Regions from separate parts of the Homo sapiens genome. Here all the other regions are linked to region 2. The links come from fine-mapping of genetic effects on gene expression. A gene starts in region 2. Each other region holds a variant in brackets. All regions are shown on one strand. Distances are from middle to middle.

Region 1 (5,156 bases), 120 kb after region 2:
ATACGGCTTTCACTTGGTCCTCTTTGGATGCTCACCCTCAGAACCCAGTCGCCATAATACGAGGAAGGCAAACAGCAATTTGGAAAGGCCATATGTAGGTGCCCAGTAGTGCCTTTGCTGAGATTCCAGATGACAACCGGCCTTCATGACCAGACATGTATGTGAATGAGGCTTCAGATTATCCCAGTGTCCAGCCTTCCAGATACCCCAGCAGATGCTGAGTGGAATAGAGATCATCTGTCCTCACTGATTCTACCCAAGTTGCAGAATTGTGAACAAATATAAATGTTTATTTTAAGCCACTAAGTTTTGGGGTTGTTGTTTAGCAATAGATAACCAGAATAATTATCAACCCAAAAAACATCTCACAGAGACAGTAGTAAATACCGCCATGTTACATGTCTATAGACTCTCATAATTCACAAAAATGCTAATGATAGTTATATAAAGTTAATTATAAGTACTATTGATTCGGATTATTTATATGACAAAGAATACAAGTTTAGAGAGTCTGCTTTAAGTGAGATTTTCTTTGGTCACTAGTCACAATTCTGAAAACTGCCTCCTACGTATACCATAAATAATCATAAAAGATCTTTTTATTCTACCCCATTGAAATGTTACACTAAAACGAATCAAGAAAGCTAGTGTAACAAGGACTTGATTTTCTGTGTGGAAAATTTATGTTATGAAATTCTGTAGTCTCCATTCTTTCACTTGTTACCCAACATATTAATTGCCTGAGAAGTTTTAAGGAACAAATACTTTATTCAAAGGTTGATGCCCTTCAAAAAAATGACAGCTGAACAAGGAAACTTTTGATAAAATATCATCTTCCCAAGTAATATTAATGTAGGTCATTTATTATTATTATTTTTAATTACTACAGTGTTGGCCAGGCACGGTGGCTCACGCCTGTAATCCCAGCACTTTGGGAGGCTGAGGCGGATGGATCATGAGTTCAGGAGTTCGAAACCAGCCTGGCCAACATGGTGAAACCCGCTCTCTACTAAAGATACAAAAAATTAGCCTGGCATGGTGGCACGTGCCTGTAATCCCAGCTACCCAGGAGGCTGAGGCAGGAGAATTGCTTGAACCCAGGAGGCAGTGGTTGCTGTGAACTTAGATCGCAGCATTGCACTCCAGCCTGGGCAACAGGGTGAAACTCTGTCTCAAAAAAAAAATTATGGCCGGGTGTGGTGGCTCACGCCTGTAATCCCAGCACTTTGGGGGGCTAAGGCAGGCAGATCACGAGGTCAAGAGTTCGAGACCAGCCTGGCCAACATAGTGAAACCCTGTCTCTACTAAAAATACAAAAAATTAGCTGAGTGAGGTATAGGGCACCTGTAATCCCAGCTACTTGGGAGGTTGAGGCAGGAGAATCGCTTGAACCCAGGAGGCAGAGGTTGCAGTGAGCCGAGATCGTGCCATTATACTCCAGTCCAGGCGACAGTGCGAGACTCCGTCAAAAAAAAAAAATTACTACAGGGATATTAAATTTCACTTGCACTGATAATTGATTCAGATGTGTCCCAAGGACAGTTTATTCCTTAAGTCATGCTTTTATTAGTGAATGAAAAAGAGGACAGGAAATTAAGCAGCATGCAATGAAGTACACTGTCATGTTATTAGGATACTCCTAATCCATTAAACACAGAAAATTCTCTATAAAGATATTTTTAAACCTTCAGTAAAATGCTTAAGAATTAATTATTCCATTCCAAGAGTTTTAGGCCAGACAAAAGCTGAGATAATTTTGTTCCTATACTCAGACATACTAGTGTACATAAATCTGTCTTAATATATAGGTCATTATTGCTTTCTCCACTAGTCATAGCCTATTGACAGACAATGAAAAAGAAGAAAAAACAATAAACAGCTTTAGAGGAAAAATATACTAGAAATTTTTTTAAAATCACAATTTGTTTAACGAGACCAATAAGAAGAGCCAAACATAGACTGGCCTTTATATTGGCCCCTCTTTCTTCTTCTCAGCCCTGGACCTAGGAGTATTGGCTTGATGAATTCTGAACTCCTTGTATAGAGCTGTTGCCTTGTGATTTACTCATTCTACTTAGGGAAAAGAACCTTTCAGGGGCACACTGATGTTTAGGGAGGAAGTGTCCCACAAGGAGAGAGATTTTTAAATTCTTTATGTGCCTTAATATAGGCACTCTAGAATAAGGGGTAAATCAGGAATTCGGAAATAACCTGTATCATGGTAAGCCTATTAGTAGGACTGATTTCTGGTATCCTTCATGTCATGGCAAATTTCCAGTATTTAGCATGTCTCTCAAAGAACCTAAGAAGAGTACTTCATTTACCAATAGAAGCAGTGGCTGCAGAAAACTTTGTCATGAAGAAATGCATGGGAAGGCTCCTTTGTTTTGCCTCCTATCAAAAAGCAACTTGGTGCAAGGCAAAGAATATCTATCTATAATTTAGGAACGCTTCAGGTTAGCAATCAACTAACTGTGTCAAGGCAACTCACTTTGCCAGCCTCTGTTTGTTTGTTTGTTTGCTTTTAAACAGGTTTTACCACAGGACCTCTAAGTTTCTTTCCGGTTTAATTTTTTTTTTTTTTTTTTTTTGAGTCGGAATCTCACTTTGTTGCCCAGGCTGGAATGCAGTGGTGTGATCTTGGCTTACTACAACCTCCGCCTCCCAGGTTCAAGGGATTCTCCTGCCTCAGTCTCCCAAGTAGCAGGGACTACAGGCATGCGCCACCATGTCCGGCTAATTTTTGTATTTTTAGTAGAGACAGGTTTCACTATGTTGACCAGGCTGGTCGCGAACCCCTGACCTCAAGTGATCTGCCCACCTTGGCCTCCCAAAGTGCTGGGATTACAGGCATGAGCCACCGTGCCTGGCCTCCAGTTTAAAATGTAAATGATACTTGAATCACAGCATTTATAGCGTCTATCATTTTTGAATGTAAAAGCAGAAA[A/G]CACACTAAGTCTTGGTGTGTGCTTAGGTTCTTAGAAAGTCTGGAAATACGAGCAAATTTCTAGTTCTCATTTTTTTTTTTTTTTTTTTTTTTGAGACAGGGTCTTGCTCTGTCTCCCAGGCTGGAGTGTGGTGGTGCAATCCTGGCTCACTGCAACCTCCACCTCCTGGGCTCAAGCAACCTTCCCACCTCAGCCTCCTGAGTATCTGGGACTACAGGCACACAGCACCACACCCAGATAATTTTTGTTTTTTTGTTTTTTGTTTTGTAGAGATGGGGTTTTGCTACGGTGCCCATGGCTGGTCTCAAATTTCTGCACTTAAGCGATCCACCCGCTTAGGCCTCCCAAAGTGCTGAAATTACAGGTGTCAGCCACTATACCCAGCCTCTAGCTTTAATTCTTAAAGATACATAATCCTTCCAAGGCCGACAAAATGCTTGCATCACCTCTTTATAAGGAAATTTTTATAGATTGCAGCAAATAATAAACTATATCATACATTCTGATTTCCACGTGTAAAAAGGTGTTTGAAACATTTATCTTCATATTTATTTTAATAATTATTTTAGAATTGAAAATGTTGCCCATTTTTCTCTGTCTTTTACTATATATTATACAAATGAAATGTAAAGGACAACACAGTATCCGTTTCAAAGTTGTTTATAAGCAATATGTTCAAATTTGGACATTAGATAAAATGCAACAGTTATTTTAAATAACTATCTTAGTCCACTTTCTGTTGCTATAACAGAATACCATAGACTGGGCAATTTATAAACAAAATAAGTTTATTTAGCTCATGGTTCTAGAGACTAGGAAGTCCAAGAGCATAGCACCAGCATTTGGCGAGGGCCCTCTTGCTGCATCATAACATGACAGAGGACATCGCTTGGTAAGAGGGCAAGAGCAAGAGAGCCAGAGAGCTCACTTGTATAAGAAACCCACTCCCATGATAGTGACATTAATTCATTAATCCATTCATGAAGAGAGAAATTAGATTTCCAACACATGAACTTTTGGGGGATACATTCAAACCATAGCCATAGCCAAATAAATGTTAAAGGTGAAATAAATGTGTACTGGAAAATGGATGAAAGGAAATGTTATAGATTGAGTTTGTCACCCAAAAATTCATGTTAAAATCCTAATCCCCAGTGTGATGGCATTAGAAAGTGGAGCCTTTGGAAAGTAATTAATTCATTTGTTTGGAGCCCTCATAAATGGGATTAATATCATTACCAAAGAGATCCCAGACAGCTCTCTGGCCCTCTTTCTGACATATGAAGACACAGAGAGATGAACTAGGAAGTGAGCCCTCATGAGACACCAAATCTGCTGGCATCATGATATTGTTCTCCTTCAGCCTTCACAACTATGAGAAATAAATGCCTGTTGTTTAGGTCATCCAGTCTGTGGTATTTTTGTTTTAGCAACCCAAGTGGACTAAGATGGAGAACCATGAGAATCAGATGGTTACACACAGTGGCATGAAGACTGACAGTTAAGGACCAAGATGATGTAAGATGATGAATACCATGTTATAGAAAAAAACATTGAATATCTTGGAGCTAATTATATTAGAGAGTAGAAGGCTAAAGGATGACGTGACTGCTATCATCAAATAGCAGTCTAAGCCATCACGTAGCAATTCTAAGAACTATTCTATAGATTTTAGAATAACTTTATTTTGTGTTGTCCTAGAAGAGTGGGATTTATAAAGACAAAAGTCTCAGTTGAATTTGAGGGAAATGCACACAAAGCTTTTTGTTTGTTTGTTTTTGAGACGGAGTCTCGCTCTGTCGCCCAGGCTGCAGTGCAGTGGCGCGATCTTGGCTCACTGCAAGCTCCGCCTCCCGGGTTCACGCCATTCTCCTGCCTCAGGCTCCCAAGTAGCTGGGACTACAGGCGCCCGCCACCACGCCCGGCTATTTTTTTGTATTTTTTAGTAGAGACGGGGTTTCACTGTGTTAGCCAGGATGGTCTCGCTCTCCTCACCTCTTGATCCACCTGCCTCGGCCTCCCAAAGTGCTGGGATTAGAGGCCTGAGCCACCGCGCCCGGCATACAGAAAGCTTTTCAGCAATGGAATGAAGTGTCTCAATGAATTTCCCATTATGAGAAGCATCCTGTTGAGAAAATTTTAAGATTTTTTTTTTATTTGAAAAGACATTGGACCAGATGTTCTTTTAAGAGTTCATTCAACTCTAGC
Region 2 (5,156 bases):
TTGTTGAAGCACTATTTACAATAGTCAAGATATGGACTCAACCTAATGTCCATCAACAGCTGAATGGATAAAGAAAATATGGTATATATACACAATGGAATATTATTCAGCCATAAAAAGGAACAAAATCCTGTCATTTGCACCAACACGATTTGAGCTGGAGGATATTACGTTAAGTGAAGTAAGCAAGGCACAAAAATACAAATATTACATGTTCTCACTCATATGTGGAAGCTTAAAAAAGTTGATCTCATGGAGGTAGAGAGTACAATTATGGTTACCAGAGGCTGGGAAGGGTAGAGGAGAGGATAGAGGTTGGCTAATTAATACAAAAATATGGTTAAAAGGAATAAGTTCTAGTAGAGTGACAATAGTTAACAATAATTTATTGTATATTTCACAATAGTTAGAAGAAAAGATTTGGAATGTTCCCAACACCAAGAAATGATAAATGTTTAATGTGATGGAGATCCTAATTACCCTGATTTGATCATGACACATTGTATGCATGTATCAAAATGTCACATATGCCCATAAAGATGTACAATTATTATGTATCAATTTTTTAATTTTTTGTTAAAAAAGGGCTTAATGACTGCAAAGCACAAAGCAAAAGTTGAATAAACGGGAGCCACTGTTAGCAGCACCAGCAACATTTTCCTGAGTGATGTTTTGGAAATTGGACATGCAGTTTGTATGGTAACCATATTTTTCAAGCCGGAAAAAACTATGACTTATGGGATCAGATAGGATATTTGGAAGTTGGATTGCTGAGAAACTGAACATATCTATTACTCTACTAGCTAGCGCATCCATAGCTCATTCTATTTTCTAAAAAGTTATGAGCCATTAGCTGCAGGAAATATTTCAGCTGAATTTGGCATGTTTGTCATTTTTAACTTCACTTTGGCAAACAAGGAAGAGTGGAAAACACAAAGCTGGATTTCCCAGAGCTGTGTTAAGTCATTTGAAGCAAACAAAATTGCAGTTTATAATTTAACCAATGCATTAACCAACATTTGCAAACATTAATCCCTAAGTCTGAAGGTTTACTTTAAATGCAAGACAGATTTGAAGTATTAACAAAAAAGAAAAAAAATAGCAATGTTCTTAAAAAAAAACTTTGCATGGAATATATATTTTTATAGGAAGACTATATTTTAAATAATCTAGTTATTTGTGCCTTAAAAAGAATAAATTATAATTCATAAGGCATTAGATGACTATATATACATCAGCTACATTTACCACTTCAGATATATTTACATTCTCAGTGCAATAATTGATAGCTAATCAAATATATCTCAAATATTTTACAAAATTCTCCAAGTAAAATTAATTCTACATCACCAAAAAAATGTAATGCATATGCCATTAAACACTTTGGATAAGAAAAAAGACGCTGTTAAATCTAACTCCAAAAATATATGGGAATTTGATTTTGAGTTTCATCATTCAAATGATTGATTTTATTTTACTAGGTATTTTGAAGACATGACAAATTATGAGAAGACAATCTAAAACAAAGCCCACAGTTTTTTGCTTGTTTGTTTATTTTAGTAAAGCTATACTTTTTTTTTAATTCCATGGATATAGTGGTAAATTTAAGCAGTGCGTGGTGGAGAAAAGGGAATATTTAACAAAGTGATAGCTCTTACAAATAATACTTTGTACTAGACACTGATTAGGAAATGTTTGAGAATTGCAAAAAAAAACTGCACACAGGGCTGTGTTAGGTTGGCTAGAAAAATGACTTACTTTCTGCATATAGGAAGAGATTTGTTCTAGGTATCATACAGTCCAGTTACAAGGTACATCTTCTGAGAACTAGAATCTTCCTTCTATCATGTTTAACAATCCTACATCTTCCCCCAACTCCCTCTGCTTTTAGAAAACTGTTACCCATAATTGGCCAACATATTAAACACATTTCAGTCTTCTTTAAGTGCATATACTCACCTCGTCTTTTCCACTATTTGGCACTCTGCAATACACTTCCCCTGTTGATGGGTCGTAAGAATCTATATATGAGCTACAAGGTAAAAATTTTCCATCTATGAAGTTTTCCAGCATCAAAAGTGCGTTTGTTCCAGCCATAGCAAGGAAAAATTCTGCCTTTCCTCTTTACGACTGAGCACTCAGGTTGTCCCCACCACTGTCTGGACTCCTGAGTGAGCCTCCCCCTTCCCAGCCCCCATCTTCCCCTTTACCAATCAGTGAATGTGGGAGGGCACCTGACGCTCTCAGAGAGCATTCCAGTCTCCAAACTCAGAACTAAGAGAGTGGCTGAATGTTTCACAGACTTCTAGTACATTACCTGACATGGATAATTGTGTGTAAAAGTAACAGCTACTTACTTATGTGTTCATAGCCCTTTAAATCATCAGAAGGCATCTGTGCATGTGATTTTATTGGGTTCACACCGTAAACTGTTCATTGCTCAAACACTGATTGGATGCCAGGCCCCAAAGCAAGTCCTTTACATGAATTTACTCGTTTATTCCACACAACAATCCTATATGAAGTAACCATTACTTCCTCTCTTTTATAGAAGAAACTGAGCCTTGGAGAGGTTAGACCATTTTTCCAAGGTCACATAGTTAGCAGGGGATGAACTGTAGCCCTTTAATCTCCAAATCATATACTTTTTCCTCAATGCATCACTGCTTACCCTGCAGAGGTAACTGAAGACAGATGCCCTCTTTCCGTGGCTCATCTGTGTTTCTTTACCTTGGCTGCCCTCTCTTGGAAGAGCTGTCTCTCCATCCCAAAACCGGGGCCACAGTGGCTGCTCACATCTTCCTAGATGTGCCATGGAGATAAAGACAAGCCAAAAACATGTGTGACACATATAGCAAGGGCTTCAGATCCCTGATGTAGCTGAGAATTTCTACAAATTGGTAAGAGAAATGAGCACCCCAACAGAAAAGATAAGCAAAGATACAAAAAAGCAATCCATAGGAAAAGGAACACAATTGGCTAATGAATATATTAACAATGTTCAGCCTTGTTGTTAAGCAAGGAATGTGAAATACAGAGGTGGCCTGATTTGCCAATCATACTGGAGAGCATTTTTAAAGATTGAGAACATCTACTCTGTGAGGATGTGGAGAATCATCCCTAGTCCATAGGCGGGAGGGTTCACAGAACACTGCTTGGGGCAATTTGTCAGGGTCTGGTCAATTTCTCTTCTAGGAATCTCTCCTACAGAATTACGTGCTCATGAACAAGTACATAAGTCACAGGACATCCTTTTTTATCATAATTTAAAAATCAAAACAACCTAAAGTCCATCAATTGGAGAATATTAGAGTATAATTGTTATATTCTTAACAGGGAATACTACTTAGACATTAGAAGGATGCATTGTTAAGTGAAAAAATAAAACTAGTGAATAATATATACAGCATAGTTTCTTTGGCTATTTACATGGTTGACAGGAAGCCGTTTTAAACTGCTTGGATATTTTATGGCAAGCCTATATTACTTTTATAATTATGATTTATAGTTATAATTCAGTTGAAGGTTAGGTACCAATATTCTAAAATTCATTGATCACATGAGGGCACTTGCTGGCCGTGCACCTCCTTAGGCCCTCTCTGCTTCCATCTTTATTGGTCTCTAGATATTCTCCAAAATTCTTGCTGAGACTTCTGACAAGCATGGTGTGGCTGATTCTGGGAGGCCCAGAGCAGCTGGAGTCTGGAGCTGGCGCCGTTGCCTGTCGCTGGAGAGTCGCTGACAGGGACTGGAGACAGAAGGTAGTCTCAGGCTTTTTCTGGTGCTGCCCACGGTCAGGTCAGCTGGAAACAGAATGAGAGAAATACGCAGGTCCCAGCCCTGGCACCACAGAGTGAAGTACCAAGAAGTGAGCTTGGTGCTGAGAGACAGTGAGTACCACCCGGTGTGTGCATAAAGACTTCTGTAGCCCATCTTCCTGGGTCTCCAACAACTCTGCCTAATGTTGATGGACTCATCAGAATGTTTGTCTTTTTGTACAGAGTGCAAAAGATTCTAATGGGAGGACTATGGAAGGGAGATCTTTTTGAAGAAAGGACTTTACCCAGGATAGCATGAGAGAGGAATTTTCTGCCACGTGACAGTAGAAGAGGACAGAAGCCGGACACGGTGCTTCTAAAGAGTGCCTGGTGCTGATCAGAACTCCCCACACAAGATCAGTCCCAGTGGCAGAGCAGGCGTGTCTGTCAGTTACAGTGGCCTCCTTGTGCCATTTTCTTGTGCCATTGGCTGCTCAAGCTGGGCCTTCGCTGGTTTTTCTTTTTCTTTTTTTTTTTTTGAGACAGAGTTTCACTCTTGTTGCCCGGGCTGGAGTGCAATGGCATGATCTCAGCTCACAGCAACCTCTGCTTCCTGGGTTCAAGCAATTCTCCTGCCTCAGCCTCCCAAGTAGCTGGGATTACAGGTATGTGCCACCACGCCTGGCTAATTTTGTATTTTTAGTAGAGACGGGGTTTCACCATGTTGGTCAGGCTGTTCTCAAACTCCTGACCTCAAGTGATCCGCCCTCCTCAGCCTCCCAAAGTGCTGGGATTACAGGCGTGAGCCACTGTGCCTGGCCTCGCTGGTTTTTCATAATGTACTTGGCCTTCCCCCACTTCCCCCTGTCAGCCCTTTTCTGTCCACAGTGCAACCATTTGATCCCCACCTGCAGGTCAACCACAGAGATGACTCTGGAATCAGAGCTCAGCTGAGCTGGGAGACTTTCATCCTGGAGGACAGAGCATGGGCCTCATTCAGAGTCTGGTCATGTCAGTTGACCCCAGTCCTGATACCTGAGCTCTGACATGCCTTCAAGGCCTTTTCTCTAAGTTGGCACCAACGTTTCTCCTGTCGGTTTCCCTTGAAGAGACATGAAATCCTATATCTGGGCCTAGTGGCTGAGAACCTACTTCTAGGTAGTTCTACCTGCTTCACTGGACATGTGGGTATCACCTGCTCCTGAATTATTCTGGCTGGCTCCATCTGCTCGCCAGTGTGTCCTGCTGAATGCAGATCTGTTCTTACCACATCCCTGTAACAGCATTCTGACCCATGGGTGAAACGTACTCCCATTTGCGGTCACAGAATCCACCCCCCACCACATCCCAAGGGGTGGATTCACTGCCAGGTCCTGCACAGTGAGGACAGGGGACTCA
Region 3 (5,156 bases), 120 kb before region 2:
CCCAGTCTTCATGATCTCTGACATAGAGATTCAGCCTCAAGGGGAAGGTAAGATGATGAAGTCAAGAGTGTCTGGAGGTCACCTGTAGTGAGCCGCTTGGAGAAATATTTTATATTATTGAGCTGTCAGATTTTTTAAATCTGCAGCCAACATTTCAGGTTGCTGATGAGAGTCCACATATATTTAGTGTAAAAGGCTTTGCAATAGGAGTCAGAAAATCTGACTCTGGCTCTGCCACTGATTAAATTCTCCAATTTCCAGTCTGTGGTGTCTTCCAGAACTAATATCCTACAATTATTCATAAATCAAGCTGCATATTGTGATGAAGGATGCTGGCAAAAGACAGGCCCATATGGGCGCGTATAATCCCCCTAAAGTCAATTATTAATGAAGTCTTCAGCTGGCAGATGCTGTAGGCAAGGACTGGTCTGGTGCCAACAATGTGATCTTCTGTTCCCATTTACAAATCAAGGCTATTGTAATCAATAAAGCCTTGTTAAACATTACTAAGGGAGTGGGCAAATGGTGCAGAGTTAATAACCTCTTACACATGCTATTGTGTTTTTTTCTTGATCCAAAATGTCCTCTTCTCTCTCTGCTGAATCTTTTTTCTGCTGCAATAGATGCTTGCACTAAACATACTCTAATTCAGTTACCTCTAATATTAGGCATTATTTATTTATCATTTATGCTACAATTCAGAGAAAGCCATTTCACACTGATGCCTGGAACTGGCCCCAGTTTTGTTGCTAGAATAATAATTAGGGGTTTAGCCAGCTTAAGTGAATTGGAAAGCTTTTGATATTTTAGAGAAGACCAAGAAATGTTAACTAAATTATTTATTGTCTCATGGTGAAAGCTACTCATTGAACAACTATATGATGCATTTTGGTATTTGTTTGAGTTAGAAAAATCATTGTCCATGGCCAGGCGCGGTGGCTCACGCCTGTAATCCCAGCATTTTGGGAGGCCAAGGCAGGCAGATCACTTGAGGTCAGGAGTTCAAGACTAGCCTGGCCAACATGGGGAAACCCTGTGTCTACTAAAAATACAAAAAGTAGCTAGGCATGGTGGTGCGCCACTGCAATCCCAGCTAGTTGGGAGGCTGAGGCGGGAGAATTGCTTGAACCTGGGAGGCGGAGGTTGCAGTGAGCGAGATCGTGCCACCGCACTCCAGCCTGGCAACAAAGCGAGACTCTGCCTCAAAAAACAAAAAAAAGTAAAAAAGAAAAATCATTGTCCACTAATGGTACAAAAAATTTAGATTGGGGCTGGACACGGTGGCTCACACCTGTAATCCCACCACTTTGGGAGGCTGAGGCAGGTGAATCATTTGAGGTCAGAAGTTTGAGACCAGCCTGGCCAACATGGCAAAACCTCATCTCCACTAAAAATACAAAAATTAGCTGGGCGTGGTGATGCGTGCCTGTAATCCCAGCTACTCAGGAGGCTGAGGCAGGAGAATTGCTTGAACCCAGGAGACAGAGGCTGCAGTGAGCCAAGATCGTACCACCGTCCTCCAGCCTGGGCGACAGAGTGAGACTTTGTCTCAAAAAAAAACAAAACAAAACAATTCTCTAGATTGATGTTCTGTATTCAGTTGAAAAAGTGGAGGATGAATTTGGACCAGACTGCCCAGTGGAATCTCGCTCATCGGGACTCCACTATCTGAATATCTGATTACTTTGATTTTTGAAGATGCAACATTAACTTTGTACTTTCATGCAGAAAGTGCCTTGGTAATGCTAGAAACAGCTAACCCATACACAGAGCTTGCTTGTGCCTTCCCCCATCTAACATCTTTACATACACTAACCTGCTTAATCCTTACAACAACCTTAAGAGACACATGCTACTAACACTTCCAGTTTACACATGGGAAAATTGAGAAGGTAACAATATTGTCTCATAAACGGTAAACCCAGGCAGCCTCATTCCAGGATCCCAGAACTTAGCCCATTTGTCCCTAATGTACATTTGCATTTTGTTTTTGTAGAGAGCCTGTCATAGGCTGAAACTTCACTTATTTAGAAACAGAGAATTCGTGTTTTCTAACAGCACCAGAGGATCTTGGCGTTGATAGGATCCACAGAGACGTTCGGTCCAATCCCTGCCACATCCCCTCAAGGGGAGCAGCCATCTTCCCTGTCCTCAACCTAGGAACAGGGACTCACTACATACATCCTGTAGCACTCTTCTCCCATCTCAGAGAGCTGGGACCATTGGAAATGGCTTTCTTTCCTTAAGCTGAAATGGGCTTTTTCTTTTTCATTTTTCTTAGAGACAGGATCTCACTGTCACCCAGGCTGGAGTGCAGTGGCCAATCTTGGCTCACTGCAGCCTTGAACTCTTGGGCTCAAGCAATCCTCTTACCCCAGCCTCCCAAGTAGCTGGGATTACTATGCCAGCTAATTTGTAAGATTTTTGTAAAGATAGGGATCTCATGATGGCTGGTCTCAAACATCTAAACTCAAGGGATTCTCCCACCTCGGCCTTGCCTAATGATGGGATTACAGGCATAAGCCACGGCCCCCAGCCTGAAATATATTTGCTATAATTTTACCTGCTGGCCAGAATTTTGCTCTTGAAGCCACATGAAGACATGGACTCTGTCTTCCTCTTAACACCCTTCAAACATCTGGAAGAGTAATTATGCACCATCCTGAATCATATTTTTCCTGGCTCATCACTCAAATGCCCCTGTTTCAAGATCCAATGATTCTGATTGCTCCTCACTGGGTGAACTTTGGGGAAAATTTCACTTGAAATGCAGGACCTGGAGACAAAGATAGTGTCAGAGGCCTCAAGGATTGCTCCACAACTGTGGACCCTTCTCTGGTGCTGACCTAGACCTAAAAGCCTTCTGCAGGACTCGTGGCCATGCCACACTGCTAACTCACAGCCAACTAGTCACCCACCCCTGCTCCAGGGGACTTTTTTTCATATTAAATGTTTATTAAATCAAATCTACCCCATTATATGTGTATTTTTAGTTATCCTTTTTTTTTTTTTTTTTTTTTTTTGAGACGGAGTTTCACTCTTGTTGCCCAGTCTGGAGTGTAATGGTGCCATCTCAGCTCACTGCAACCTCTGCCTCCCGGGTTCAAGTGATTCTACAGCTTCAGCCTCTCGAGTAGATGGGATTACAGGTGACTGCCACCACACATGGCTAATTTTTGTGTTTTTAGTGGAGACGGGAGTTTCACCATGTTGGCCAGGCTGGTCTCGGAGCTCCTGACCTCAGGTGATCCACCCACCTGG[G/A]CCTCTCAAAGTGCTGGGATTACAGGCATGAGTCACTGCACCCGGCCTAGTTATCCTTTTAAGCACAGTGTAGGATTTAATATTTATCACTAACGGAGGGATCCCTCCTCAAGTCCACAGAGAGAAAGGGGGAGGGAGGGTGGGTTAGGGGAGGGAGGGAGGAAGAGAAAAACAGAGATTACTGTGCACTCATTTCACCCCAGGAGACTTTTCTAGGTACAGTAAAGAAATTCAAAGGACCTTTAATTAGCTCACAGATATAGTGAGTTATTTCATAAGGGAAAAACAAAAACATAAGACGATATTTGCAGAGAGCTAAGCTGGACCCTAAAATAAAGGTAACTAAAGCTAAAGCTCTAACAACTTTCAGAGCCCGGGGGTATTTTCCTAGACCGTTTCCCTTGTGGAAAAGCAATCAAATAGATGCTATAATTTTAGACATTTTTTGAAACAGGAGTCAGCCTGAACGTCATAGATGCCAACCTGAAGTTTGTGGTATGTGGGTCATTGTTTTGTCACATGTGACACGGTTTCCACGCACAACAGGTTGAATTTAGAAAAACTTGTTAATAGACTAGCAGTCAAAGCCAGAAGCAAGTCTGAAAGCTAGGCTGATAGAAAATAAAATATCCCTTGATGACATCGGCAGAACCAATAAACACACGACCTCAAAAGTAAGGAAATGATTGTTCATAGTTTTAGACACTAGTTCTCTATGTTGCATAAGCTGTGTTTAAATAATTCATAGCAACACAATCAAGATCCCACATGCAAACTACAATAATTCTGTGTGTACGTACCAAAGGGGTTTAAAATATTAGTATGTTTGGAGATGTTTTTCATTTTCCTCCCATTTTCATAGTCTTCAAAATCACACAACAGATTTTGAGTTTAAAAATCAACAGGGAAAAATGGAACACTGATTTAAAATAATAAGAAAAAAATGGCCTAACATTTAGAACAACAGCTTCTCCCCCTATCTGTTGCAAGGTGGAACTAATTGGCTTGTTACAAAGCGGGGAGCTGACTTTAAATTATAATGTAAGGAAATGGTCATTACTAGATGTTTTGAAACTTAGTGAGACAATATAAAATGCAAAAGCAACATCATAGAAAAGACCTTACTATTGTGTTGACTGATAAGAATCAAAAGCAATAGACCTAGGATGCCTGAAACACCCACTATCCCCAAGTGAGAGGGAAACTGAGTCAAATAACACTTTCCAAGGAGGTGGAGGAATTATAATGAGGACGTATTCTTTTCTGACACTTTCTTATCTTTCTTCAAGGGCATTTTGTACAGGGAGTTACTAAAGCTTGACATTCTCTGGCCATAATAATGGGAGGAACAAGAGCAGGACCCCTGGTGAGCTGAAAATCAGGAAGGAGTTGTAGGGAGAAGAGTGGCCAGTTTTTCCAGGTGTCCCATGATGATATTGACTAAGACATCAATCTCCTTGGCAAAGATGGATAACCTCTGTTTTCTGTCTCCCTAGGGCACAAAGACATCCATATTGACACTGTAACATTGGCCATGGGAATAAAAGAAAGAAAATGAGATTAGTACTTAACACACATGATTTATTTTAATCAATTTTAATACAGTTCCCATAAATACAAGTAGAAAAAAGGAAAACTGTCTTGTTATTATTTAGAGAATTTAATGATGGTTGCAGGGGAAAGGTCATACTGAAAATTCAAAGTATCTAACAAAAAGATATAAGCAGAAGATTTTTTCCAAGACTAGTCTGTCCATGGGCAGTAAAATACATATATCAGAAAAAGAAAAACATGGATGTGCTTGTGCTTTGTAGGTAAGTCACCCAGCTTTCTGTCTTTTCTTGTTCTATCTATGCTTTCTTCAATTTCTATGCCTACTAACTCCACGAGGGTGT
Region 4 (5,156 bases), 90 kb after region 2:
ACATATCATGAATTAGGTTAGCTAGTGAAAGTTCTTTTGTTAACTTACATGATTCTAGTTTCTTTTCACTTTTACGTGTGTCAAGTTTCTTTTTTCTATGGAGTAAACAGTGAGTTGGAACTGAAGAATTATGAGATAATCCGTATTTTCCTACTGAGCTAGCAAAATCAAAGGGTTTGCTACTATAATCCAAATGATTTGCTGACTGAGGATAAGAACTTTGAACATTATCAGCTGAAACTTCAGAAGAAGAAAATAAGACTCCTTACCTTACAAGAGCCATTAATTTTCAGATGAATAGGTTGATATACGCAGAAGACAGTCACAGCAACCAAAAGGAAACATGAAATGAGGCATTTAATTACTAAATGCTTCTTTTGATTATGACATGAATAAAGTGATACTTGATCATTACTTAACATGAATACTCTAAAAAACAATAAGGGAGTATTACCTTCCTTTACCAATTTAAAGTAACCTTTATACTCTGTTCACTGATACATACAATGTAAGTCAGTCAATGTTCTAATTTTCACGAATTTAAAAATGTGAGGTCTTAACCATAATTAAATTGTAGTCAGGATTGTCTCAAATTCAAAAACTTCTTTAAAAAAACAAAAAAAACTAGGTTCCTTTTATTCTGTATTTTAATGTATTAGAAACAAATAAGCAAACAACCCCCGGTAATTTCTACCACAATCTGGGATACACTATCAATACAAGATGACATATTACAGACTCATTCCCATCACAGCCAGTTACAAGTGCCCATCTGTGTGCCCAGCATCCCTGGAAAACACACTCTTATTTCATGGTAACAGGCTGTACACAGCTTTGTTGTAGAAAAAATTTAGCCCAGAGGTTACAACAAACACTGACATAGTAAACAAATCGCCATACTCAAACTGAGAGATAGCATGCCAATTAATATAATGCTACCACCTCAGTTCCCCTCTTATGTCCACTGAATTCCAAATTTAACCCCAAATTTTACAAATTTAAAATTAAATCTCTGGCTATAAAATGCAAAGTAGTATAATTATGATACTTATACCTAATTATTTTTAAATAAAACAAAATTATACATAATAAAAGCATAAAGGGATTTTTTTAACATTAATTAGCTGGCTGTCAATTTCCTTTTCCTATCTCATCAGAGTTTAAAAAAATAACAATTAAAAAGTTCTATAAGCTACTAACAAGAAGAAAAAGATGTCTTGTCTTATCTAATTTTATTTCCACTATGTTGTTATAAAATCAACTAGTGAGGCCAGGTACAGTGGCTGACGCCTGCAATCCAAGAACTTTGGGAGGCCAAGGTAGGCGGATCACTTGAGGCCAGGAGTTCAAGAACAGCCTGACCAACATGGTGAAACCCCATCACTACTAAAAATACAAACAAAAAAAAAAGCCAGGCATGGTGGCACGCACCTGTAATCCCAGTTACTTGGGAGGCTGAGGAAGGACAATCACTTGAACCCAGGAGGTGGAGGCTGCTGTGAGCAAAATCATGCCACTGCACTCCAGCCTGGGTGACAGAGTGAGACTCTGTCTCAAAAAACAAACAAAAAAACAAACAAAAACAATCAAGCAGTAAAATAACCACAAAAACAGGCTACAACAGAAGAAACACAGTCATCATCCTAAAAATCCACAACTAGATCAACTGATAATCAAAAGTTAACAATAACATGCAAGATTTTAATAGCTCAAGCAAATTAAATATTTTCTTAAAAGCTCAAGCAAACGAAAGCCTCTCTTTAGGCATTAACTATGTAAAACAAGTGAAAAAGAACAAGTAAAGGCATACCTTTTGCTATCTTTCCTGTAGATACTGTTGCCTCATTCTTGTCCTTCAAACTCTGCACTCTATCTTGTTCCAGAACCCCTGACAAAGCCTTCTGCACATCAAACTTGTTCTTCAGAACTGCTTCAATTAATATTTCATCTGGCACAGCATCTCCAAGTACCTCTCTCATGTGATCAAGGCATGAATAAAGACGAGCTAGAAAAGACGACAATGGTCAAAAGCTATACTAAATGGTGCAATGAAAGAACTTTTAATCTTCAAAACTGATTTTAAAATTTACAGCTGTACTAGAATATTCAACTCTCCCTTCTCTTTGGCAAAAATTATCTCTAATGATCGTATTTTTATCTACAATATACCTATCTTCCCTTATCCAAGGAACGATTTCGTTAATTTAAAAATCACTATAATAAAATGTCTCCTGAATAATAGTGACTAATGTTTCAAAAAAGTGTACATTGCACAGTATACACTAATATCTATTTTCAGTCACCAGTGATGATGGTATCTGCAATGATCATTTTTTGCATGTACAGAAAGGAAGGGGTGAGTGTGGAACTATTTCTAATTTGTTAGTGAATCCAGTTATTCACGAAGTATATTTCTTATATTTCTCAAGCTGCTACCTTAAGTTTCCTTTTTGGCTAACTTCAGTTCTTCCCAGCTAACTAAAATAATCCTTAATGACTCTTTAAAAAACGGCAAGATAACATAATATAAAAATGCCATAAAAATAAGAAAGTCCAGGAGATTAAGGGGAGGATAGGCATTCTTTTTTTTTTTTTTTTTTTTTTTTGAGACAGAGTCTCACTCTGTTGCCCAGGCTGGAATGCCAGTGGCGTGATCTCAGCTCACTGCAACCTCCGTCTCCCTGATTCAAGCAATTCTCCCACCTCAGCCTCCTGAGTAGCTGGGATTATGGACGCCCGCCACCATGCCCGGCTGATTTTTCTATTTTTAGTAGAGATGGGTTTCACCATGTTGTCCAGGCTGGCCTCAAATTCCTGACCTCAGGTTTCCACCTGCCTCGGCCTGCCAAAGTGCTGGGATTACAAGCGTGAGCCACCGTGCCCAGCCGGCATTCACTTTTAAAAGAAAAAAATTTAAGTCTGGAATTATCTAAGCTGTTTATGAATTTTAATTTTCTGATGACATTAGTATTAAAAGTAATTATTAATAATACTTATTAATGATTTAAAATCCATAAGAGCAGAGAGGCTTTGTATCCCTAGAACCCTTTGTATCT[C/T]TAGTACCAGGTAACTAGGGGCCAATGAATAAAAATGAATGATATATTCCCTTATATTTTTGTATAGCACTTGACAATTTTCACAATACTTTTATGTATATTTCTTTTGTAATCCTCATAATAAGTCTATGAGCTAGATATATCAAGCAAATTCTAACTTAATAAAGATAAGATTGAAAATCATGGCACTACTAAGTTAGCAATAATCAAAATAGAATAGAGGTTTTCAAACTCCCTATTCCACAAAACCATTTCACAGAATGCAATTTATATTTAATTGTACATGCTCATATGCTGAACAAGTAATCTACTGGCAATACCCTTTCTTTAAAAAAAAAAGTATTTGATACTTCTTTCATTGGCCCATTAATTATTAAAAATACATTCCTGAAATATTTGGGCAATTCTGCTTTGCTTCAATTTAAGATTAACTTTTAAAGGCTAATAAGCTATGGGATAATATTATCTCTTTGATAAATACATCAATTATTGAAACTGTAACAAAATAGTATAGCTAGCTAGCATCAGGGCCTCCTCTTTTTTATTTATTTATTTATTTATACTTATTTATTTATTTATACTTATAAAAGAAGAAAGCTAAAATATAAATATCTTCATTAAAATGTTTAAGAGAGTTGAAAATATGCAAAAACTCAGAACCGATGTCATTACCAAGTTCTATCTTGAAACTTAATTCACACAGATGTAAATCTTGAAACTTAATTCACACAGATGTAAATCCTGAGGACACTTATACAGTGTCACTTTAGACTTCAACTGGTTTTTTTTGAAACCTCTTGAACTTAACATCTTTGTAAGTAAAGGAGTTTATGTATTCTAATCATAAGCTCCATATACAGCTTATGAAACAATTAAATCATCTGAAAAAGTTCTTCTTAACGAATCACTAGAGTTTCTCTCCCATGGAAAAAAATTTTAAATGGGATAGTTCAATTAAAATTTCAGTTACTAAACAATAGCCATACAATTTTTCAATCATACAGTTAAATACACTCCTCACAAAACATACTTAATAAAACATAAACTGTCCTTGAATATGAAAGATATGTTTACATCATTACTGTTCATAGTCACTGTTATAAACACAATAAAACTGATAAATTCTGGTGTATTTGGTCATTAATCACTTTCAGATAACAGATACACTACTTTTTGCTATACCTTGATCAAATCCACTGAGCTGATGGTTTGAAACAGAATTGGAAGATTCTTTCAGATCTTCATAATCATATTCTTCCACAGGCTCAACGGAAGGTTTGTCACGCCGTGAATAAATAAACTGAGCAGCTAGAATATAAAATGATCAAAGAATGCTATGGTATAGCCATTTCCTATTAACTTTTTTTTACAAAAGTTAAAGTAAAAATTAAAAATTCTAATCAATCACCTATAGTTACCCATATTTCATAAGGGATGAAAACAAAAACAATATCATATCAAAACATATACCTAAAATCCTACTCGAAGGTGCTTACAATTTATTATTCTCTTATAATCTTCTTCCTTCTTTCCCCCAATCTCTGAAACCATTCCACTCAGCCTACTTTCTCCCTGGTTTCCAAAATCTACCTTTCCTAATATCTCTTCTTTGTATACTATTCTGTGTTCCCTGAAATTTTCTCTTCAATACAAATATTTCAAACCAAATATCAAACTTCTAATTTACATAATTAAGAAAACACAAGGTGGCCAAGCGCAGTGGCTCACCCCTGCAATCCCAGCACTTTGGGAGGCCAAGGCGGGTAGATCACCTGAGGTCAGGAGTTCGAGACCAGCCTGGCAAATACAGTGAAACCCCATCTCTACTAAAAATATAAAAATTAGCTGGGCGTGGCAGTGGGCACCTGTAATCCCAGCTACTCAGGAGGCTGAGGCAGGCAGGGGAACCGTTTGAACCCAGGAGGCGGAGGTTGCAGTGAGCCGAGATCACGCCATTGCACTCCAGCCTGGGTGACAAGAACAAAACTCCGTCTCAAAAAAAAAAAACAAAAAAAAAAAACAGAAAAGAAAACACATGAAGTGCTAATTTTGCCTGAATCTAAGAGTTCACGGAAAATACAGACTTTAATCTTTAAACAA

Evidence for each region. PIP is the estimated chance that this variant, and not a neighbour inherited with it, causes the effect. A credible set is the group of variants that fine-mapping cannot tell apart.
Region 1: its variant is the best candidate, but not a certain one, in a credible set for the expression of ALDH8A1 in tibial artery (GTEx, PIP 0.81).
Region 3: its variant is the best candidate, but not a certain one, in a credible set for the expression of ALDH8A1 in lung (TOPMed, PIP 0.79).
Region 4: its variant is the best candidate, but not a certain one, in a credible set for the expression of ALDH8A1 in whole blood (INTERVAL, PIP 0.90).

Annotation. Positions count from the first base shown.
Region 1 is chr6:135,067,410-135,072,565 of GRCh38, forward strand. No RefSeq gene overlaps it. Among named protein-coding and RNA genes, the nearest start is that of HBS1L, 15 kb to the left of the region's middle. The variant A/G (reference allele first, on the strand shown) is at 2,948.
Region 2 is chr6:134,947,957-134,953,112 of GRCh38, forward strand. It overlaps ALDH8A1 (aldehyde dehydrogenase 8 family member A1), which reads right to left and starts at 2,145. Exons shown (of 7, transcript NM_022568.4): 1 at 1,960-2,145. The coding sequence starts at 2,097.
Region 3 is chr6:134,830,673-134,835,828 of GRCh38, forward strand. All of the region lies in intron 2 of LOC101928277 (a long non-coding RNA gene), which reads right to left. Among named protein-coding and RNA genes, the nearest start is that of ALDH8A1, 120 kb to the right of the region's middle. The variant G/A (reference allele first, on the strand shown) is at 3,262.
Region 4 is chr6:135,037,763-135,042,918 of GRCh38, forward strand. It overlaps HBS1L (HBS1 like translational GTPase), which reads right to left. Exons shown (of 18, transcript NM_006620.4): 3 at 4,239-4,364; 4 at 1,811-2,005. Among named protein-coding and RNA genes, the nearest start is that of HBS1L, 14 kb to the right of the region's middle. The variant C/T (reference allele first, on the strand shown) is at 3,057.